Regions from separate parts of the Homo sapiens genome. Here region 2 is linked to region 1. Evidence: fine-mapped expression QTL. A gene starts in region 1. The other region holds a variant in brackets. All regions are shown on one strand. Distances are from middle to middle. Region 1 holds the start of MLEC (malectin). Region 2 has its middle 22 kb from the start of ACADS.

Region 1 (12,054 bases):
CCAACCAACTTTTTTCCCCTCTGGAGCTATGTTCTGCCCTATTTTTAATTCCATGTAAAAGGTCATCAAGGAAAAAAAAAGTGACAGAGACACTTCAAGCTACTCTGGACAGGAGAGTTTACAGTCTTATCAGAAATTTCTAAAGCATGAGAGATTTTTTGAAAAGGAAAACAAGGCTCAGAGACGTAAAGCAAGTTTCTCGAGGACCTGCGACTTTAGCAGGTATCTTTCTCTGAAGAGGAAATAGCCTTCCCTAAACTCAAGCAAAATTCTGTGCCCTCAGGTCAAATAACCAGGTCTTTTCCTAGTCAGAGTGAAGAGGAACTCAAAATGACCAAGTTACAAATCTGGAACATGGTCAGGCGTGATGGTTCATGCCTGTAATCCCAGCAGTTTGGGAGGCCAAGGTGGGAAGATCACTTGAGGACAGAAGTTCAAGACCAGCCTGGGCAACATAGTGAGACCCCTGTGTCTACAATAAAAAAAAAATTAAAAATTTTCAATAAATAAATAAAAACCCTGGAATGTGCCTCATACCAAAACCCCAAGGTGAACGCTTCTAAACCACTTTCTGTAGTGGTGCTCCCATCTGTGGAAGCACACAGGCTGAAAAAGCCTTTCCCAGGCTGTAAGCACTAGCTATCCTCAAGGCAGAAATGAAATTCAATAAATATTCTGAACTGCTTTTGAAAGCATAAACCACTAGGTGCCCTGGGCCACTCACAATTACAAGAATGTTGAACTACAAAGAAACTACACAGAAACAGCAAGTTCAAAAGAAGGCCAAACCCTTATCTGGACTAACTTGGTAACAAATACCTGAATTCATTCAACATAAAATCAACTTTTCTCAGCATGCTGGAAACAATATCACAGGCAGGCGGGAAAAGAAATAAGGCATACAGTTCCTACTGCAATCAGTGTAAATAGCTGCACGAGGCAAGGGTCTTCAAATACCTGGCACACCCTTATCCAAACAGGCCCAGAAGAAAGGCAGTGTGAACAGCTGGACTTCCCTTGGTAGGACTGACTCCTTAGTAGAGAGCTGCCTCCTGAGAGTGCAAGCTTATGCGCATCTCAGCCCGACCTAAAGCCAGCAAAATGCCTTTCTCAGGAACCTGGTAAGCGCAATGTTGCAACAAGCTGGTCCAAACTGCAGCTGACAAGCGCCACCTCCCACTCCCCATCCATGCCTTAATACTGCTCCAATTCTTACCCAGATTGGTAGAATGGAGAGGGGAACCTTAGCAGGGAACCTTCATTTATACAATGCCCCAAGGGCCAGTGTCCGAAATAGGACTCCAGTACACACAAGCTTTGGTAGGTCTCATGTAATTTTACCTGCTACAATAAACTCCTTCCAAGGAACTGCAACCATGAGCCAATAACCCAAGGACACAGATCTTGGCTGACTGCTGACCAAGCCAAAGAAACACACACACACACACACACACACACACACCACCTGCATCAGCAAATTAAAACCAGAATTTCTGAATAAGGGCAGTATCTGGGAACTAAACCTGTGTGGTCTTACTCGGCTTTATTCTCTGCACAACAGACTGAATAGGACGATGTAACCAATGTAAGGCCTGGTATCTGCTAAGTGAAAGAAACCATCCGCTCAGCACCCTCACCACCGCTATCTCAAGAGGCAAAGTCCACAAACTGTCTAGTTTCCTCAAGGGCTCTTTCCTCCCTGCCCACACTCGTGAAGAAAGAGGAAGGGTCCAGGATAGAGATAGTAATGACCTCCTGCTATAAAGTCTGGCTTTGGCTGCTGTTACCGCTGCTAAAGACTGGAGCCCTGAGTCAGCTGAACCCAGGCTACTGTGATCTACATGCCAGGGCTCAACAAACTCCAAGACAAACATAGAACTTCACAAAACAGCCCTGTGTCCCAAGACCCTCACATGTGTGAAAGGCAATAAACTCCTTAATATAACAAACTCCAGGACACTGCAATCGACTTGGGAAGAACTAACTATTTTAGTAAAAGCAAGAGCCAAATCTGGGCATCGCAGAAAAAGAATGAGAGAAAGTGAAGAGTGAGTCTGTCTCCTGGTTGTCTGGAGGTGGCATACTGCCAATTTGGTAGCCTCTGAACCCAGCATACAGTATCAATCTCCTAGCAAAGAACTTCCTTCTGAAACCTGTTTTCCAATCCCTCCAACAGAAGAAACAAAGATTATAAAGCTGATCTTCCAAAACGGTGGTCTCGGGGCAACCTACATCACAAGCCCCTGGTGCAGAAACCTGGATCCCAGCAAAAAAGCTCAATCTACTATAATCAATTTCGAGTGGGGACTAGGAATCTGCATTTTTAACCAGCTGCCCTGGCAATTCTGACACACACTAACTTTGGGAAGGGAGCAGCTCCGTTAAAAACCACTGTTGCCCAGCAAGTTAAGTCACAATCATTTTCCCCCTAAGCTGGAATTAGAACTCTCAGGATCACCTAGGGGAGGTTGTAAGCATTCTCTGATAGACCATTCGGATTCTTACACTGGTTGACCCAGTTCACACACAGCCACCAGCCTCACGTGCAGGATGGCTTCGATAGAACCACCCTCTGGGGGCGGCCTGCCGATTCTACTTTTAAGCACACATATTCTTCGCTCGAAAAGAGGGCGGGGGAGGAGGCTACAATCAAACTTTCCTGGCCCATTCTCTTCGAAGATTCCTTCCTATTCTGGCTAAGAATCAAGCCCCGCTCCTGCAGAAGGGGCAAGGAAAGCGGCCGATTCCTGGGTCGACGAGAATCTCCCAAGAACTGTCTCGACAGGAGAAGCAGGGGCACCCATGACCTACAACCCGCGAGGCCTGGAGGTAGCAAAAGGCCGCCTTCGTCATTTCTCTCCCAGCTTGGATGGGAGTGAGGGGTTGAGAAAATGCAGGATGAGAAATCCAAATATAACTAACTTCTGGCCAACTCTCTGCCTGTATGACTCTAGGTACCTTGGAGCCAGTGCCAGGCCCTGAGCTCAGAGCGGGCCCCCGAAGAAGCTGCAGAGAGAAACTTCGCTCCAGAGACGCGGCCCCAGGGTCGAAAGGGGCTCGGGGCCCGCAGCCCCCGGCCGGCTGCGCCCAGCACAGCAGGCCCTGGATCCCGCGGCTCGGCAGGGGGACTCTCACCTCGGCCCACCCGGCCTTCCAAAGGGTCCTTGCGGAAGTGGATCCCGTGCACGTCCACATGCGCCTCTCCACCCGCGTTGACCGCCCAAATGACGCTCTCGGGCAGCCCGGCCCCCGCCGCGCCGGCCACGCCGGCCACGCCGAGCCCGGGTCCCCGGATCGCCGGCGGCAGCAGCAGCAGCAGCAGTCGCAGGAGCGCCACAGCGGTTCCCTCAACCGCCCAGGCTCCCAGCATGGCGGCCACCACCACGGGGGCAGCCCCCGCCGACCCTCGTCCTCGGCCGGCTGCCAGGCCACCCCGGACTCAGAAAAACAGCGCCACGGGCCGCTCCGCCTGAGCCGCCGGGGACATGTCGCTCTCAGGCCTCCTTCTTCTCAGCCACGGGTACCGCCTCCCACCTCAGGAACAACCTACCCCGCCGCCCTGCCCCCGGCCACGACGCTGCAGCCAATCAGCGCCCGGCCCTCATTAATTACCCACCACCCCGCCGGGAGGCGCCCGCTCATTGGCTGTCAGGCGCGGGAAAGGGCGTGGCTTCTCCCAGGCGCCGGCCCAGCAGTCGGGCACCAGATGGAGCGCGCGCAGAGGGAGTGAGTTCGGTTGAAGCGGCGGTTCGATGCGGAAGTGGCGGGTGCAGCGCCCAGGCGGCCCCGGAATCCCACAGCTGAATGGGAAAGGTGGCCTGGGGGGGGAAGGTTTAGGGTAGGGCGCACTGACATGTCGCCAGCACTTCCGGTGCTCTAGCTCCTGAGACCAAATAGGCTCTGGAGGGGGCGTGGCCGACTTTCCCGCCCCCTCTTCTTTTCTCAGGGAGCAGCATGAGCATAAATTCTAGTAGGAGAAGCAATGGACACTCTCCAGACCTAAGAGACGCAGTCCTTTTCCCCGCGTGAGGGAGAGGACCCATGCTTTCCCAGAGAGGCCGCGGACACAGGTCTCCAGGGAACGAATCCCATGAGAATAAGGCCCCGCCCCCTCCCCTTAGCGGGCTCGGGGCGGGTGGTAGCGTCCAGACGGCCGTCCAATGAGAAGGCTCCAACGCAGCGGAAACGCGTGGCTTTGAGAGCGAGTGGGTGCCAGGCTGCTCGCGTCTCCATGGCGACGGCCTCTGGCCGGCCTCCGCTGCGTAGGGGCGGGACCGAGGCACCCTAGGCGCTGGCGGGAGTCGCCGCCGGCGGTGCCCAGAGTGGATACCGGGGTTGTCCCGCACGGGCACGGCCCGAACTCCCTCCCTGCTCCTTCACAGTTCACCTGGCGCTCTCCCACACTGGCGATCCCTGCGCTTCGGTCGCTGTTCAAACTCCCATTTTTCCGATGGGGAAACTGAGGCATAGAAAGGGACTGAATTTTGCCAAAGGGTCGCACCGCAAGTGTAGGGCAGAGTCAAGGCAAAAACAAAAAAAACAAAAAAACGCTTATGCATTTTCCATAAATACTGGTCGATTTAGAAATTCTCCCTAAAAGGAAAAAAATGTATCAAGTCCCTGCTACCAGGGTTGTCAGATTTGGCAGATAAAATAGGAGAAGCCCAGTTATATTTGAATTTCAGATAAGCAAATGGGACCCACTTATACTAAAAAAAAAAATGCATTGTTTATTAAAATTTAAACAACTGGACTTCTTGTATTTTATCTACCAATCCTACCTACTACTTAGGCAATGAGCTTTGTGCTACATGAACAAAAAACACACCTGGGGTCCCGCATGAGAATCATAGACTTTGCACAACCCATAATGAAATTAATTGTTTAGTTAGAACAGTGGTAAGTGCTATACGGGAACAAAACAGGGTGCCAAAATAGAGACTATCAGTGGTGGATCTAAATGCACCCAAATTCCTTCCCAGGCCCCAAATTCAGACCCCATGGGGGTAACTTTTGGAAGTGTTCCCTCCCGGTCTCACTTTCCCCCCTATTTTGCAAGCATCTGGCCTTACTTCCTCCCATAGACATGTTTCCTGTCCAAGGTGTTTCTTTTTTTTTTTTTTTCTGTCTTTTTTGGAGACAGAGTCTTGCTCTGTCGCCAGGCTGGAGTGCAGTGGTGCAATCTCGGCTCATGGCAACCTCCACCTCCCGGGTTTAGGCGATTCTGCTGCCTCAGCCTCCTGAGTAGCTGGGACTACAGGCGCGCGCCACCACACCCAACTAGTTTTTTTTATTTTTATTAGAGACCGAGTTTCACCATGTTGGCCAGGATGATCTCGATCTCCTGACCTCGGGGTCCGCGGCCTCCCAAAGTGCTGGGATTACAGGTGTGAGCCACCACACCTGGCCTCTTGGGGTTTCTAATTCTACTATTCTCTCTCTCAAACTGTCATCTTTTAAGGATCTTGACAACTCAGAGGCTTCAGTTACCCTCAAAGGAGGGGTGTGGTGCAAATGGGGAACAGAAACACAAGTAGTGGTGATGGGGCTTCCTCCCTCCAGGCAGTTGGCCTGCAGAGCCCACGTACCACTCAGGTATTGCACTGCCACCAGGCGCTCATGTTTATTTTATCCTCAAGGCAGTCTAGTCCAGGAGAAACAATCACAAAAACGGATTAAATTTTGGGGGAGGCCTCTAAAGGCTTTCTCTCAGTCCTTCGTGTCTTTGGTCACCCCAGAGGGTGAAGAAGATACCCGGCTGGCTCCTGTTATTGAGCCCTTCAGATACCATTCGTGGTTGGGCCATCTGTGTACCAAGGAGCTTGGCTCCCTTTCTGAGATCCAGCTGCTCATGAATTAGGCTGTCTTTTCAGTAAAACGTAAAGTCTGAGACCCTGGAGGCAGGGTATGGGATCCGAGCGTGGGATCTAAGACAGGCTGCCTGCATCCCATGCCTAGTCCCATTTACCCACTGTGTGGCCTTGGGCAAGTGATGTACTTCGCTGAGTTTCAGTTTCCTCAGTTGTGAAATAGAGATACAGTCATGAGTCACTTAATGACAGGGATGCGTTCTGAAAAATGCATCATTAAGCGATTTTGTCATTGTGCAGAGATCACAGAGTGTACTTACACAAACCTAGATGGGGATAGCCTGCTATACACCTAGGCTATATGGTATAGCTGATAGCTCCTACACTACAAACCTCTACAGCATGTTACCTTACTGAATACTGTAGACAGTTGAACACAATGGTAAGTATTTGCGTATCTAAACACAGATACAGTATAAACACAGTATTGGCCAGCCTAGTGGCCCATGCCTGTAATTCCAGCACTTTGGGAGGCTGAGGTGGGTGGATCACTTGAGGCCAGGAGTTCGAGACCAGCCTGACCAACATGGAAAAACCCTGTCTCTACTAAAAATACAAAAATTAGCTGGGCATGGTGGGGCGCACCTGTAATCCCAGCTATTCGGAAGGCCGAGGCAGGAGACTCGCTTGAACCCGGGAGGCAGAGGTTACAGTGAGCCGAGATCGCACCACTGCACTCTAGCCTGGGTGACAGAGTGAGATCCAGTCTCAAAAAAAAAATATATATATATATACACACACACACACACACACACACACACACAAAATTTTATTTATTTATTTATTTATTTATTTATTGTGGAGACAGATTCTCACTATGTTGTCCAGGCTGGCCTCTAACTTGTGGCCTCAAGCGGTCCTCCCGCCTTGACCTTCCAAAGTCCTGGGATTACAGGCCTAAGCCCCTGCACCCAGCCAATATTATAATCTCACGGGACCATCATCGTGTATGTGGTTCGTCATTGGCTGAAATGTTATGTAGCACATGACTGGAATACTTTATTTTACTTATTTATTTTTTGAGACAGAGTCTCACTCTTGCCCAGGCTGGAGTGCAGTGGCATGATCTCGGCTCACTTCAGCCTCTGCCTCCTGGGTTCAAGCAATTCTCGTGTCTCAGCCTCCCAGATAGCTGGGATTATAGGCATGCACCACCATGCCTGGCTAATTTTTGTATTTTTAGTAGAGACAGGGTTTCTCCATGTTGGCCAGCCTGGTCTTGAACTTCTGGCCTCAAGTGATCCACCTGCCTTGGCCTCCCAAAGTGCTGGGATTACAGGTGTGAACAACCGCACCTGGCCTGGAATAGTTTCTATTTCAGAGGGCAGACGTGAGGATTAAAGAAGGTAATAAAACCGCATGAAGAAGAGGAGGAGAAGGTGGTAATGCATATAATAAAGTCATTAGAATTGATAAAGAGCTGAAACAATTGTTTAGATACTCCGAGACCAACCACCATAGCCACATAACCAAAATTTTAGCACCTGATTTTCCAAAATGCTAACTCTAAACATAAACAAAGCACAAGAATAAGTTTTCTTCCCTTATTAGCATGATTCCACAGAATTAAACCAATCAGCCATAGACAAACCAGCTTAAGCAGCTCTATTTGCCTTTGAAAAAATATATATCAGCCAATCATGTAAAGGGTCAAAATACTTCCTCTTGTGCTACAACTGCTGTCAATTCAGACTTCTTGCCAATCTTGTAATCTCCCGATTCACAGACTCTTCCTTTGTATGCACAATCAACTCCTGAAATTTTAACTTGATCTGATTTTATTTTTGACAGATTCATGCCTGGCACAAGCCAAGGCACTCAACCGATTGCTACTCTGAAATGAAAGTCTCGGCCGGGCACGGTGGCTCACGCCTGTAATCCTAGCACTTTGGAAGGCCGAGGTGAGTGGATCACCTGAGGTTGGGAGTTCAAGACCAGCCTGACCAACATGGAGAAACCGCATCTCTACTAAAAATACAAAATTAGCCGGGCATGGTGGTGCATGCCTGTAATCCCAGCTATTCAGGAAGGTGAGGCAGGAGAATCGCTTGAACCCGGGAGGCGTAAGTTGTGGTGAGCCGATATTGTGCCATTGCACTCCAGCCTGGGCAACAAAAGCGAAACTCCGTCTCAAAAAAAAAAAAAAAAAAGAAAGAAAGAAAGTCTCTTGAGTTCTTGCCTTCTGAACTTGTACCCCCCACCTTGTACTGTAAGAAGCTGCTAGATCTATGTTTTTTTTTTGGTTTTTTTTTTTTTTTATGAGACAGGGTCTCGTTCCATTGCCCAGTCTGGAGTACAGTGGCACAATCATGGGTCACTGCAGCCTCGATCTCCCAGGCTCAAGGGATACTCCTACCTCAGCCACCCAAGTAACTGGAACTAGAGGCATGTGCCACCATGCCCCACTAATTTTTTTATTTTTTTGTAGAGATGGGGTCTTTTGCGATGTTGCCCAAGCTGGTTCGAACTCCTGGGCTCAAGCAGTCCTCACACCTCGGCCTCCCAGAGTGCTGGTATTACAGGCATAAGCCACTGCACCTGGTCCCAGATATACGCTTTTAGGAACTCTTGATAAAATTGTTTGTAGCCACAAATCTGTACGAGTCTACAGCACCTCAATTCTTGGCTGGGCGTGGTGGCTCACGCCTGTAATCCCAGCACTTTGGGGGGCCAAGGCAGGTGAATCACCTGAGGTCAGGAGTTCAAGACTAGCCTGGCCAACATGTCGAGACCCCACCTCTACAAAAATATAAAAATTAGCCAGGCGTGGTAGCATGCGTTTGTAGTCCCAGCTACTTGGGAGGCTGAGGCAGGAGAATCGCTTGAACCCAGGAGGTGGAGGTTGCAGTGAGCCAAGATCATGCCACTGCACTCCAGCCTGGGTGACAGAGTGAGACTCTGTCTCAAAAATATATATATATATATATTGACTCCTCAGAAGAATTCAACTAAGGGGCAAAAGGCAGAGAGAGAGAGACAGAGACAAGTTTTAGAGCAGGAATAAAAGGAAGTAAAAGGCCAGGCACAGTGGCTCATGCCTGTAATCCCAGCACTTTGGGAGGCCAAAGCAGACGGATCACCCTGAGGTCAGGAGTTTGAGACCAGCCTGGCCAACATGGAGAAACCCCGTCTCTACTAAAAATACAAAAATTAGCCAGGCGTGGTGGTGTGCGCCTGTAGTCTCAGCTACTAGGGAGGCTGAGGCAGGAGAAGCGCTTGAACTCGGGAGGCAGAGGTTGCAGTGAGCTGAGATTGCACCACTGTACTCCAGCCTGGGTGACAGAGCAAGAACCCGTCTCAAAAAAAAAAAAAATTGCGCACCTGAGGTGGTATCAGGAGTAGGACCCCCATCTTGTACTATAGAAGGCTACTAGATCTATGCCTTTTTTTTTTTTTTGAGGCAAAGTCTGTCTCTGTTGCCCAGGCTGGAGTGCAGTGGCGCAAACTCGGCTCACTGCAACCTCTCCCTCCTGGGTTCAAGCAATTCTCCAGCCTCAGCATCCCGAGTAGCTGGGACTACAGGCATGCTACCACATCCAGCTAATTTTGGAATTTTTAGTAGAGACAGGGTTTCACCATGTTGGCCAGGCTGGTCTCAAACTCTTGCCCTCAGGTGATCCACCCACTTTGGCCTCCCAAAGTGCTGGGATTACAGGCGTGAGCCACTGCGCCCGGTCCTTTTTTTTTTTTTTTTTTTTTTTTTTTTGAGACAGGGTTTCCTTCTGTTGCCCAGGCTGGAGTACAGTGACATAATCCTGGGTCACTGCAGCCTCTACCTCCCGGGCTCAAGGGATCCTCCCACCTTAGTCTCCCTAGTAACTGGGACTAGATGCATGTGCCACCATGCCCCACTGAATTTTTTTTTCTTTTTTTTTGTAGAGATGAGGTCTTTTGCTATATTGCCCAGGCTGGTCTCAAACTCCTGGGTTCTCCTCCTGCCTCGGCCTCCCAAAGTGCTGGGATTACAGGCATGAGCCTTGATAGGGTTGGGGGCAGAAGACAAAAAGGCCAGAGTCAGGCTAGAGGGCCTGAACCCAGGGCAGGATTATATCCAAAAGCACTGACCCAGAGGGGTCCCCAGATAACCCCAGGTTTGCTCTCAGGATAGACCATGCAGAAGGCATGGAGTCTGAGCCCTGGGAAAGCTGAGAAGAGTGTCAGTCCCCAGGTGGCCCTGGACCCAGGCCATTTCTCTGTAGACAATGAGGAATTTGGGCTCCAGTCTCCCATTTCCCCTCCCTGCTGTGGAAGGTCATCCCCATCTGAGAGCCCAGAAACACTTGGGGCGGCTGCATTCCCACCTCTTTCAGCTGGGGCTGGTTTGCTGCAAACATTTCTGCAAATCCTCCAGCACTCTCTCAGGATGGAGGACTTGCCCTCGTTAGAGTAACAGGAACCAAGATTTGGGGGTCAGACAGAGCTGGGTTCAGTTCCTTCCTCAGCGGCTTCCCAGTCACATCACTTCCTTTCTTGCTGAGTCTCCTTTCTCCTGAAACGCACACCACATTGATGTAAGGACTAAATAGGTAGTTCTTAAATGGGCAGCAGTTATTTTTCTCTGTGGAAGAAAGATACACTTTTTGTAGAAAATGCAGACGACATGGAAGAGAATTTTTCTTTTTCCCATACAGAGTCTTACTCTGTTGCCCAGGTTGGAGTGCAGTGGTGTGATTTCTGCTCACTGCAGCCTCTGCCTCCCGGATTCAAGCAATTCTCCTGCCCCAGCCTCCTTGAGTAGCTGGGATTACAGGTATGTGCCACCACATCTGGCTAATTTTTGTACTTCTAGTAGAGATGGGGTTTCACCATGTTGGCCAGGCTGGTCTCAAACTCCAGACCTCAAGTGATCCGCCCACCTCAGTCTCCCCAAGTATTGGGATTTCAGGCATGAGCTACCATGCTGGCCAGAAGAGACTTTTTTAAAGATAAAATTTGCCATAATTTCTTTTTTCTTTTTTTTTCTTGCTTTGAGACAGAGTTTCGCTCTTGTTGCCCAGGCTGGAGTGCAATGGCGCGATCTCAACTCACCGCAACCTCCACCTCCCGGGTTCAAGTGATTCTCCTGCCTCAGCGTCCCTAGTAGCTGGGATTACAGGCATGCGCCACCATGCCCAGGTAATTTTGTATTTTTAGTAGAGACGGGGTTTCTCCATGTTGGTCTTACTGGTCTTGAACTCCCGACCTCAGGTGATCCGCCCACCTCGGCTTCTCAAAGTGCTGAGATTACAGGCATGAGCCACTGCGCCCAGCCCAAAATTCACCAAAATTTCATCCAAAACTGATATAAGGCATATAAACCCAGGTCCTGACAGAGCAGCTTCTCAATAATCATTGGTTCCTACTTATCCGATGCTCTTAATGACCTCAAAACGTTGGAAAACTAGGTCATGTTCCCTTTTTTGCAGATGAGAAGCTAAAGCTCAGAGAGTTGAGGGATTTGTCCAAAGTCACACAATGAACAGCCAGAATCCAATGTTTTGGCATCTAATATACTTCTTTTCCTTTGAGCCTGGCTATGTAGCAAACATAGTTTGGTGCAAATCACAGCTCTGCCATTAGTCACTGTGTGACTTTGGGTAAATGAATTCACCTCTTTGATCCTTAGTTTCTTCATTTGTGGGATGGAGAGAATAATTGTGCCCACCTTGTAGGACTGTTAAAAATAAGAAAACATATTTTAAATAAACAAAAAATTAAAGTTGGTTTTTTTTTTTTTTTTTTTTGGAGATGGTGTCTCACTCTGTCACCCAGGCTGGAGTGCAGTGGCGTGATCTCATCTCACTGCAACCTTGGCCTCCTCAGTTCAAGTGATTCTCCTGTCTCAGCCTCCCAAGTAGCTGCGACTACAGGCATACACCACCACGCCTGGCTACTTTTTGTATTTTAGTAGAGACAAGGTTTCACCATGTTGGCCAGGCTGGTCTCGAACCCCTGACCTCAAGTGATCTGCCCCCCCCTCAGCATCCCAAAGTACTGGGATTACAGGCATGTGTCACCACGCCCGTCCAGGATGTGGTTTTTAAAATTAGCATTGTGGGACCATTGAGCACGTAGCTAAGTGATCAGTAAATCATAGTCGTGGGTGTTTGGGGCATAGAGACCTGGATTTAAAGCCTAGCTCCACTTCTTAGAGCTGTGTGGCCCTTGGAAAGTCGTTTCTCCTCTCTGGGCCTCAGTTGTCTCA
Region 2 (12,550 bases), 63 kb before region 1:
AAAATACAAAAAATTAGCCGGGAGCGGTGGCGGGCGCCTGTAGTCCCAGCTACTCGGGAGGCTGAGGCAGGAGAATGGCGTGAACCCGGGAGGCGGAGCTTGCAGTGAGCTAAGATCGTGCCACTGCACTCCAGCCTGGGCGATAGAGCGAGACTCCGTCCCAAAAAAAAAAAAAAAAGAATTCTTACAACTCAACAATAAAAAAGACAATCCAGTTATTTAAATGGGCAAAAGATACAAATAGAAATTTCTCCAAAAAATATATACAAATGGGCTGGGCGCGGTGGCTCACATCTGTAATCCCAGCACTTTGGGAAGCTGAGGTGGGCAGATCACGAGGTCAGGAGATCGAGACCATCCTGGCCAACCTGGTGAAACCCCGTCTCCACTGAAAATACAAAAATTAGCTAGGCGTGGTGGTGCGTGCCTGTAATCCCAGCTACTCGGGAGGCTGAGGCAGGAGAATCACTTGAACCAGGGAGGCAGAGGTTGCAGTGAGCCAAGATCGTGCCACTGCACTCCAGCCTGGCAACAGAGCCAGATTCCATCTCAAAAAAAAAAAAAATATACACACACACACACACACACACACACACACACACACACACACACACACAAATGACCAATAAGCACATGAAAGGGATGTTCAGCACCATTAGAGAAATGCAAATCAAAACCACAGTGAGACATCACTTCACACCCACTAGGATGACAATAACTTTTTAAAGACAATAACAAGAGTTAGCAAAGATGTACAGAAAATGGAGCCCTCATAACATTGTTGGGGTCGGGCAGGGTGGCTCACACCTGTAATCCCAGCACTTTGGGAGGCCAGGTGGGCAGATCACTTGAGGCCAGGGGTTCGAGAGCAGCCTGGCCAACACAGCGAAAGCCCGTCTCTACTAAAAAATACAAACATTAGCCAGGAGTGGTGGTGGGCACCTGTAATCCCAGCTACTAGGGAGGCTGAGGCACGAGACTCACTTGAACCCGGGAGGTGGAAGTTGCAGTGAGCCAAGATCGCGCCACCACACTCCAGGGTGACAGAATGAGACTTCATCTCAAAAAATAAATAGAAATTTAAAAAAAAATTAAAAAAAAAACCACCATTGCTGGTGGGATTATAAAATGGTGCAGCTGCTTTGGAAAATGGCTTCACAGTTCCACCAAAGGTACCATAGTTACCATATGATCTAGCAGTTTCATTCATAGTTACAGTTTACAAGAATTAAAAATCTGTATCTACCAAAAACTTATACATACATGTGCATAGCAGTATTAATAACCAAAAAGAAGAAACAACCAAAATTGTCATTAACTGAACAAAATGTGTATGTGTACAGATTATTATTCAGGAATGAAATGAATAAAGATGAGGACCATAACCTATACTGTATATTTTCTTATGCATCCTAAGCTAGAAACCAGGGTTACCTTTGGAGAGGGAATTGGGAGTCATAGAGGCTGCCTACAATTTTGAACACATACCAATATTTTTATTCAAAAATTAAAAATTAAAATCTTCAAAATGTAACACTGCTGTAAACTCTTACCATCAAACTACATAAGCAAAACTGCAACACGAGAAATCGATAGAAATAAAAATGTAATTGAAGAATAACACAATTTCTTTCAGTCTCTGACAATGCAAGTAGAAAAAGAATGTGTATAGAGAGAAAAAGCTCATAGTGCCTAAGACAGATCGATCATCTGTTCTCCCCAGCACCACTAATGAAGTTCTCCCTTTTCTTCCGGAGTGATACCACCATTCATCCAGCTGGACAGGACAGAGCCCTTCTCCCTCCATCCCCATGACCAGGAAATGCATCACTGACTCTTGTTTGTTTAACCTGCCTGCCATTCCAGGGATCCATCCATTTCTTTCCATCTCCTGTCTCCACCCAGATCCAAGATACCATCATCTCCCTCTTGGATCATTACAGGAGCCTCCTAACTCTCCACTCTGACCAACCTCCTCTTTCCACACCTCCTCACTGCGCTGCACACCACAGCCAGAGGGGATCTTTTCAAAACAATTTTTTTTTTTTTTGAGACAGAGTTTCACTCTTGTCGCCCAGGCTGGAGCACCGTGGTGCAATCTCGGCTCACCGCAACCTCCGCCTCCGGGTTCAAGCGATTCTCCTGCCTCAACCTCCCAAGTAGCTGGGACTACAGGCATGCGCCACCACACCTGGCTAATTTTTTGTATTTTAGTAGAGGCCGGGTTTCACCACGTTGGCCAGGCTGGTCTCAAACTCCTGACCTCAGATGACCCACCGGCCTTGGCCTCCCAAAAGTGCTGGGATTACAGGCATGAGCCACCGCACCTGGCCTCAAAACAAATATTTTCAGACCAGGTGTGGTGGCTCATGCCTGTAATCCCAGTGCTTTGGGAGGCTGAGATGGGAGGATCACTGGAGGCCAGAAGTTTGAGGTTGCAGAGAGCTATGATTGTGCCACTGCATTCTAGCTTGGGTGACAGAGAAAGACTCTGTAAAAACAAACAAACAAAAACATTTGTACACCATCTCTCTGAGTCAAATGCGCCAAAGGCTTCCTTGTCACTTCCAGGACAAGGCAGAAATCTATGTGACCCATAGGACTGTACCCGAGATGGCTGTCCGCCTCTCCAGCTCATCTCACGCCGTGTTCCCGCTCCGTCCTCCAGCCATTCTTCCATTCCTTGAAGACCATGCTCTCTCCCACCACAGGGCATCTGCACAAGCCATTTCCCAGGCCTGGGCTGTCCATCTCTAGGCTCTTTGTCTCATTCACGCCAACTCATCCCTCAGATCTCAGTTCAGCTGTCACCTGGTCAGGGAAGCCTTTTGTGACTCAGCATTCCAGCTCAGGTTCCTCTATTTTAGTCTCTCCTAGAACTCTGCTCCTCTCCTGCGTTGCACGCATCCCATTGAGGCTGCGATGTGATTAGTGTCTGCCACTAGCACCACCAGCACTAGCTTGCCTGCAAGGACTGTGAAAAAAGGAATTGTTTCTGCTCACCCACTGTTTCTCCCAATGGTTTGCACAGTATCTTAGATATAGTAGCTGCTGCAATATGAATGAATGAATCAGAATAAAATTATCAACATTCGTTCAATTTTATTAATCTCTACCATCATACAAAACATAACCTTTTCAGTTCTCATGGACTCTTGATGGAAACGGACCATGTATTCGATTCTCACAAGGCCTCATATTCAGAAAAGTGAAAACAACTGACCACCTTCTCTCACTACCACACAGTGTGACTGGGAAGAATTAAGAAAAGAAACTGCCAGGCGCAGTGGCCCATGCCTATCATCTCAGTATCTGGGAGGCCAAGGAGGGAGGATCTCTTGAGGCTAGGAGTTTGAGACCAGCTTGGGCAACATAGCAAGACCCCGTCTCTACAAAATAAATAAGTGTGTCACGGTGGCGCCACCTGTAGTCTCAGCTACAGAGAGGCTGAGGCAGGAGGATCTCTTGAGCCTAGGAATTGGAGGCTACAGTGAGCAGTGATCACGTCACTACAATCCAGCCTGAATGATAGAGTGAGACCCTGTTGCTTAAAGAAAAAAAAAAAAAAACTGGAATCCAAAATCAACAAGGGTTCAGGCATAGTGGCTTATCCCTATAACCCCAGCACTTTGGGGTTACAGGAGGATCACTTGAGCTCAGGAGTTTGAGATCATCCTGGGCAACATAGTGAGACCTCCATCTCTACTAAAAATTTTAAAAAGGCCAGGCGCAGTGACTCACGCCTGTAATCCCAGCACTTTGGGAGGCTGAGGCAGGTGGATTGTCTGAGGTCAGGGGTTCGAGACCAGCCTGGCCAACATAGTGAAACTCCATCTCTACTAAAAATACAAAAAATTAGCTGGGCATGGTAGCGGGTGCCTGTAATCCCAGCTACTAGGGAGGCTAAGGCAGGAGAATCGCTTGAACCCAGGAGGCAGAGGTTGCAGTGAGCCGATGTTGTGCCATTACACTCCAGCCTGGGGGACAAGAGCAAAACTCCATCTTAAAAAAAAATAAAATTAAAGAAAATTAGCTTAGTGTGGTGGTGTGCACCTGTAGTCCCAGCTATGTGAGAGGCTGAGGCAGAGGATCACTTGAGTCCAGCACTTTGAGGCTGCAGTGAGCTATGATCATGCCACTGCACTCCAGCCTGGGTGACAGAGCAAGACCTCATCTCAAAAAAGAAAAAAAAACAAAAAACAAGGGCTTTGTCTTTTTCTCTGCTGTATCTCCAGCACCTAGAATAAGTGCTCAATATACATTTTTGAACAAACAAATAAGAATAGAAAAATAAAATCGATGATCTGCTCAAACATAGGAGTGTCAAAGTAGGAAAATAGGAGAGAAAAGAAAATTAGAGGTTCGACCAAGAAAGTACAACATCAGACTTCTAGGAATTTAGAAAGCAAACCAAAAAAAAAGAGTGAATCAAGCTGGGTACAGTGGCTCACACCCATAATCCCAGCACTTTGGGAGGCCAAGATGGGAGGATCACTTGAGCCCAGGAGTTTGCGACCAGCCTGGCAACATAGCAATACTCTGTTTCTACTAAAAATAAAAAAAAATTAGCCAGGTCTGGTGGCAAATGCCTGTAATCCCAGCTACTCGGGAGGCTGAGGTGGGAGGATTGCTTGGGCCCAGGAGCCTGAGGCTACAGTGAGCCATAATTGTACCACTGCACTCCAGTGCGGACAACAGAGCAAGACCCTGTCTCAAAAAAAAAAAAAAGTGAATAAAATTATCAAAGAAATAATGTAATAGTTCCAAGAATTAAAGAACATGGAGGAAAAAAACATGGATCTCTAGATGGAAAGACCCACCACGTGCCCAGCTAAATGAATGAAAAATGACCCACATCAAGGTGTTCTGGTGTTCTGGTCAGTAGGTGGCATAAATAGATCCCAGCCCAGCGTGGTGGCTCCATTGCTAAAGATCTGATCAGTGGTGACCTGGGAATGTCCTGGAGGAGGGAATGCTGTGGCAGCTGTGATGATGCAGAATTTGAAGGCTATCCAGGGTGGAGGTGGGACAATGCCAGGGAAAGTGCCGAGGTGGCTGCTCACTGCTCAATCGTCCTGATGCTCTATCTGCAGCAAGTGAGAAACTGAGAACTGTGAACAAGCAGTTCACGGCTAAGTGTGAGCACCAGAGAGCCTTGGTATCGAGGAGTGTAAAAAAAGGCTTTTTTTTTTTTTTTTTTGAGACAGAGTCTTGCTCTGTCGCCCAGGCTGGAGTGCAGCGGCACCATACCATTCCACTGCACCCTCCGCCTCCGCCTTCCGGGTTCAAGCGATTCTCCAGCCTCAGCCTCCCAAGTAGCTGGGATTACAGGCGTGCACCACCACGCCCGGATAATTTTTGTATTTTTAGTAGAGTCAGGGTTTCACCATGTTGGCCAGGCTGGTCTCGAACTCCTGACCTCAGGTAATCTACCCACCTGGGCCTCCCAAAGTGCTGGGATTACAGGTGTGAGTCACCATGCCCGGCCTGAGTGGATAATCTATTGAAAGAACTAACGAAGTTCTTCAACATAACCAGATAAACAGAAATAAAAACGAAATATGTCAGCAATAAACAATTTTTTTTAATAGTGGGTGACTTCTGGTTTGCCCCAAGGTGGTGAACTAGCATATAGGTTGTTGGCTTCCTGCCTTAGCCAAAGCCTGAGTGCTATAGAGATTAAAGGAAAGCATATTGATTCAGGGAACTAAAGATCAGAAGAAAATTCTAGGGAGAGAAGGCGGTTGTGAGCAAATGTAGAGGGGAGCACAGCAGACCTGAGTGAGGCAGAGCTGGGGGCTATGGCGGATGAATCGGGACCCCTTCCTACTTCAGTTATTAACTAGAAGGATTCACATGACCTGATGAGGTTATATCACAGCTAAGGTTGACTAAGCGAAGGATACACCACGGGACCAGAGAGAAAGATACACATAGACAAAGTCCAGGGAGGCCGAGAGCAGGCTGCACGGTGTGTTTCTTTCCAGGTGTGAACCACAGAGATGTGAGATGTCTCTGCCCAGGGAAACACCCAGGTCTCAAAACCTGTTGTTCTAAGAAGATGGTCACATAGGCACTTTCCTGCCACATGACCAGCCATGGTAACCAAAACACAGCACTCCAAAACAGAGGCCAGACGCACATCCTAAGTTTTTTTTTTTTTTTTTTTTTTTTGAGACAGAGTCTGTCTCTGTCCCCCAGGCTGGAGTGCAGTGGCACGATCTTGGCTCACTGCAAGCTCCGCCTCCTGGGTTCACGCCATTCTCCTGCCTCAGCC[T/C]CCCACCCCCGGCCCCGAGTAGCTGGGACTACAGGCGCCCGCCACCACACCCACCTAATTTTTTGTTTTTGTTTTTAGTAGAGACGGGGGTTTCACCGTGTTAGCCAGGATGGTCTCGATCTCCTGATCTTGTGATCCGCCCGCCTCGGCCTCCGAAAGTGCTGGGATTACAGGCGTGAGCCACCGCGCCCGGCCGCACATCCTAAATCTTGATGTTAAACATTCTGACATCTGACAGGCTGCTCATCCTGCCCCAGTGCACCAGGCCTACAGATTAACATTCATCAGTAACTACATGCACCTTCCAAGAGTTTCCTTCTCAGCTTGTCCCAGGTCAGTGCCATAGCTCCAGGCACTCCCAGAGAGCAGCAAAGACTGAGTAAGCCAGGCCTGCTCACAACAGAAACGCAGACTGTGGAAACCCTTGGCCTTTCCTCTTGCCTCTTTTAGAACTCTCAATAGAGCCATCTGGGCCAGATACCGTGTTTTTTTTTTTTTATTAAAAAAAAAAATACTGAGCTGGAAGCATTAATGTCCACCTATTTTAAGTGTACAGCCTTCGTGACTCTTTCCACATGACTATACCTGAACCACCACCACTCGGATCAGAATATAAAACCTTTCCAGCACCCAGCAAGCTTCTCTTGTGCCTCTTGTCAGTGGCCCCCAAGGTAACCACTGTTCTAATTTCAGTCACCACAGATTAGTTTTGCTTGCATTTGAAATTCATGTAATACAGTGAATACATTATGAAGTCTTGACTATAAACTTTTTTGAGACAGAGTCTCGCTCTGTCCCCCAGGCTGGAGTACAGTGGTGCAATCTCGGCTCACTGCAACCTCCGCCTCCCGGGTTCAAGCGATTCTCCTGACTCAGCCTCCTGAGTAGCTGGGATTACAGACATACGCCACCACGCCCAGCTAATTTTTGTTATTTTTAGTAGAGACAGGGTTTCACTCTGTTAGCCAGGATGGTCTTGATCTCCTAACCTCATGACCCGCCTGCCTCGGACTCCCAAAGTGCTGGGATTACAGGCGTGAGCCACCATGTCTGGCCTACCTTTTTTTAAATTTAACTTTGTTTGCTTGTTTTGAGATGGGGGTCTCCTTATGTTTCCCAGGTTGGTCTCCAACTGCTGGAGCATCCTCAAGCAATCCTCCTACCTCAGCCTCCAAGTAGCCAGGGTTATAGGTGCACGCCACTGTGCCCAGCTTTGAGCCTAACCTTTTTTGCTTAATGTTACATTTGTAAGATTCAGCCATGTTAGCAATTTATGGTCAGTAGTTCATTCTTTTTTATAGTTGTATGTATGCTCATTGTTGGAATACAGCATTTCTCCTCAATAATTGTACCAATTTACCCTTCCGCCTGCTCTGAGAGGCAATTCCAGTTGAGTTACATTTCCACTGACTCTGTTAGGAGATGCCTTTTGTGGGGACAAATGTTTAACTCCTTTTCAATTTGTTCTAGTCTTACTGGTCTGTTTTTTGTGTTTGTTTGTTTTTTCTGCCTTCTCTAGAATCAATTCTGTGTATTTGTTTTCCTGGAAGATAAATCATTTATGTAGATTTTAAATTTCATCAGCATGAGTATGATAGTTTTTTTTTTTGTTTGTTTTGTTTTTTGAGACGGAGTCTTGCTCTGTCGCCCAGGCTGGAGTACAGTGGCACTATCTCGGCTCACTGCAACCTCTGCCTCCCTGGTGCAAGCGACTCTCCTGCCTCAGCCTCCTGAGTAGCTGGGACTACAGGTGCATGCCACCATGCCCAGCTAATTTTTGTATTTTTAGTAGAGATGAGGTTTCACCATGTTGGCCAGGCTGGTCTCAATCTCTTGACCTCGTGATCCTCCCACCTCAGCCTCTCAAAGTGCTGGAATTACAGGCGTGAGCCACCGCGCCCGGCTGAGTATGATAGGTTTTGGTATGCCATGTTTTCATTTTGTGTATTAAATATAAAATACACAAAAATCAAATTGTATTAAAATCTCGTACCAAAAACATGAGTCCCCTGACTCGCCCGTCTCACTTCCTCGGACTCTTTTAGTATTTATATGTTTATCTTTTTTTTTTTAAGATGGGGCCTTGCTATGTTGCTAATGCTCACGTGAGCGTGGAAGGGAACGGAGTTTCAGATGAGACTGCAGTCCCTTGCTTTCAGTTTGTGAGACCCTGGACAGAGCATCCAGCTAAGCCACGCCCAGACTCCTGAACCATGAAAACTATGAGATGGGTTTGTTTTTTTGGTTTTTTTTTTTTTTTGGTTTTTTGACAGGGCCTTGCTCTGCTGCCCAGGCTGGAGTGCAGTGGTGTAATCTCAGCTCGCTGTAGCCTCGAACTCCTGGGTTCATGTGATCCTCCTAATTTAACCTCCCAAGTAGCTGGGAGTACAGGCATGCATCACTGAGCCTGGCTAATTTTTTTTTTTTTGTAGAGACAGGGTCTCACTATGTTGCCTAGGCTGGTCTTGCATCCCTGGCCTCAGGTGATCTTCCCTCCTTGGCCTCCTGTGTAGCTAGGACTCTAGATATGCGGCACTGCGTCCAGCTAATTTATTTTTTATTTTTTGTAGAGATGGGCTCTCCCTGTGTTGCCCAGGCTGCTCTTGAACTCCTGGGCTCAAGCCATCCTCCCACCTCGGCCTCCCGAAGAGCTGAGATTACAGGGCTGAGCTGCTGTGCCTGGCCCTTTAAGATGGGTATTTCTTCAAGCCACTAAGCGTGTAGTGATGTGTTGCTAGAGTAGAAAACCAATACCAGTGTAGCGTCGCTTTCTCATCAGCTCCAGCCTGTCCCCAGCTGGGTGACACTGGGCTTCGACCGCAGTCATGGGCCCGGCAGCCAGGAGAGGAGGTGAGGGCCGCTGCAGAGGGGCACCTGTGGCCTTGTTGGGAGCGGCTTCCGCAGACTCTTCCAGTAGCAGAAGCCCTCACCTTCCTATGGAGAGGCAGCCACCCTCTGCACCCTGGAGAGTTTGGGCTGGAGAGCAGCATCAGGGGCATCCGTTCAGATGGCTCCGTTTTCCGGATGCCAGGTTTTCCTTCCCACGCCCCTGCCCTTGGCCTAAGCAATCTGCCGGGGCTGAGTCTTCAGGCTCTGGAGCTCTGCAAATTCCTGTTAGGTCTCTGGCCTGCCTGCACCATGTCTGCCCTTCTGCTACACATAAGAGCCTTTTTTTTTTTTAACCTGATACACAATAATTGTACATATTTATGGGGTACGTGTGATATTTTGATCCATGCATAAAATGTTTAATGATCAAATCAGGGTAACTGGGTATCCATCACCTCAAACATCTATCGCTTCTTTGTGTTGAGAACATACTAAATCTTCTAGTTGTTTTGAAATATACAAAAAATACTGATAACAATAATCACCATATTGTGTGAACACTAGAACGTATTCCTTCTACTAAACTGTATTTTTTAAAATTTTCTTTTCCTAAGATGAGTCTTGCTCTGTTGCCCAGGCTGGAGTGCAGTGGCACAATCTCCACTCACTGCAACCTCCACCTCCCAGGTTCAAGCGATTCTCCTGCCTCAGTCTCCCGAGTAGCTGGGATTACAGGCGCACACCACCATGCCTGGCTAATTTTGTATTTTTAGTAGAGATGGGGTTTTGCCATGTTGGCCAGGCTGTTCTCGAACTCCTGACCTCAGGTGATCCACCCGCCTCCGCCTCCCAAAGTGCTGGGATTACAGGCGTGAGCCACCGCACCTGGCTGAACCCATTTTTTAAAAGGGAAGGCTGGGTGCGGTGCGTTACGCCTGTAATCCCAACACTTTGGGAGGCCAAGGCGGGCCGATCATGAGTTCAGGAGATCGAGACCATCCTGGCTAACACGGTGAAACTCCGTCTCTACTAAAAATACAAAAAATTAGCCGGGTGTGGTGGTGGGTGCCTGTAGTCCCAGCTACTCCGGAGGCTGAGGCAGGAGAATGGCGTGAACCCAGGAGGTGGAGCTTGCAGTGAGCCAAGATCACACCACTGCACTCCAGCCTGGGCTACAGAGCGAGACTCTGTCTCAAAAAAAAATAATAAATAAAGGGAAAACCACACACTGTATGAGTCCTTTTGCAACCAGATATCTGACAAATGATTAGTATCAAGAGTAAACACGTGGGACAATTACAAATCAATTACAACCCAAAGAAGAAACAGACAATAGCAATTCACAGCAGAAACCAGAATGACCAATCACCACGTGAAAAGACGTGCAGTTTCTCAAGAAACCAGGGAGATGCAAGTTAAAATCACAACCATATTGAAGAACGTTTGTAAAATCTGTGGGTGCCAAGGAACGGGGAGAATGCGCGTCATCAACCCTCGCATATGCATAGAGGGTGATCCGACCACTGATCCAACCTCTGGAGGGCCATTTGGCAATATCTGGCGAAGCTGAAGAAATAAACAGCCTTAAGGCCCAGCAAGCCCACTTCGATTTAAATGCTCACAAGTTCTCACATTAGAAAAACACACATGCCAGAATGTCCACTGCATCATGGTTTATAGAGTAAAAAGCAGGAAACTACCTCAATATAGTTTATCCCATGGGACACCATGCAGCCATCCACATAAATGAACTAGAACTTCACGTATCAACATGGAAAAACCAAATTGCTAATATTCAATCTTCATAAAAAGTAACTTAGTGCCGTGAAGCACATCTCAACAGATTTCAAAAAATTCAAATAGTGCAGAAAATGTGCTGAGACCACAATGCAATTAAGGTAAAAACCAGCAACAGTAGGTATGGAGTTTCCTGCTGGGGTGATGAGAATGTTCTGGAACTAGATGGTGGCAATGGTTGCATAACATGATGAATGTCCTAATGCCACTGAGTGTACACTTGAAAATGGTTAAAACTGTAAACTCCGTCACAGTTTTTAAAAATCATTAACAAAAAATACCTCAGAAAACCCCATATTAATAAAATAATACTCTTTGGCCAGGCATGGTGACTCACACCTGTAATCCCAGAACTCTGGGAGGCCAAGGCGGGCAGATCACTTGAGCCCAAGAGTTTGAGACTAGCCTGGGCTGGTCACATGTTTAGTAGAGATGGTGAAACCCCATCTCTACTAAAAATACAAAAAATAGCCAGGTGTGGTGGCGCCTGTAGTCCCATCCACTTGGGAGGCTGAGGTAAGAGGCCCACCTGAGCCTGGGAGGTCAAGGCTGTGGTGAGCTGCGATTATACCACTACACTCCAGCCCAAGCGAGAAGAGACCCTGTCTCAAAACATAATAATACTCTCCTAAATAACTGATAAATCAAAATAGAAAGCACAATGGGCCTCAGAAAACTGAGTAATAAGGAAAATATGACACTAAAATGTATGAGATGAAGCAAAAGCCACACTTAGAAATGTATGAATTCAGGCCAGGCATGGTGGCCCACGCCTGTAATCCCAGAACTTTGGGAGGCCGAGGCGGGCGGATCACCTGAGGTCAGGAGTTCAAGACCAGCCTGGCCAACATGATGAAAGCCCGTCTCTACTAAAAATACAAAAATTAGCCAGGCGTGGTGGCGCATGCCTGTAACCCCAGCTACTCGGGAGGCTGAGGCAGGAGAATCGCTTTATCGCTTGAAACCGGGATGTGGAGGCTGCGGTGAGCCGAGATTGCGCCACTGTACTCCAGCCTGGCAACAGAGCGAGACTCCATCTCCAAAAAAAAAAAAAAAAAGAACCAAAGCATGGAGAACTTGTCCCAGAGGGCTAGAGGGAAGGAAACAGGTGGCCTCTCAGCTACATGCAATGCAGGCCCCTGGACCTTGAGAAGAGCTGACTTCGCAGACACCGTGCCAGCTGGCACAATCCGAGTGGAGTGTGCAGATGTGAAAGTTGACCAGGGTGGGAAACGGTCCTGTTGTTCTGTAAGTGAACGTCCTTGTCCTTAGGAAATCTACACTGAGGAAACTGTATCCAGAGGGGCATGGGCTCTAGGACAGTTCGGGCTCCAGTGGCCCGGGGGCAGAGTCCACATTCAGTTCTAAGTTAGGAGGAGCTTCCACTAACGGGCAGCACCCCGTCAAAGCCAAGGGTTTGTGCCGACTCTCCCTCACCGAAGGACAGACCCCGGACCCACGACGGCACCTCAAAGCCCCCGAGTGCACAGACTGGCTCTTGGGTCGGAGCCTGGGTTGCTTCATCTGAAATGGAGGACCCCAGGCCTCCGAGGCTGCACTTCCTGGAAAGGCTCTTCGTGGCCACCTGAACGAGCCCTGGGCAGGTCTGAGAAGCAGAAACCCCTCCAGGGCTGCCACTCGGCCTGT

The links. PIP is the estimated chance that this variant, and not a neighbour inherited with it, causes the effect. A credible set is the group of variants that fine-mapping cannot tell apart.
Region 2: its variant is the best candidate, but not a certain one, in a credible set for the expression of MLEC in neutrophils (BLUEPRINT, PIP 0.90).

The regions. Positions count from the first base shown.
Region 1 is chr12:120,678,613-120,690,666 of GRCh38, reverse strand. It overlaps MLEC (malectin), which reads right to left and starts at 3,518. Exons shown (of 5, transcript NM_014730.4): 1 at 3,136-3,518. The coding sequence starts at 3,370. It overlaps LOC105370029 (a long non-coding RNA gene), which reads left to right and starts at 3,518. Exons shown (of 3, transcript XR_945449.3): 1 at 3,518-3,813; 2 at 7,662-7,771. It also overlaps a transcript of CABP1 not described here. RefSeq lists silencers at 3,160-3,459, 4,300-4,399, 5,514-5,603 and enhancers at 3,214-3,715, 3,810-3,939, 4,030-4,139, 10,323-10,432.
Region 2 is chr12:120,741,858-120,754,407 of GRCh38, reverse strand. No RefSeq gene overlaps it. Among named protein-coding and RNA genes, the nearest start is that of ACADS, 22 kb to the right of the region's middle. RefSeq lists a silencer at 6,488-6,703. The variant T/C (reference allele first, on the strand shown) is at 6,278.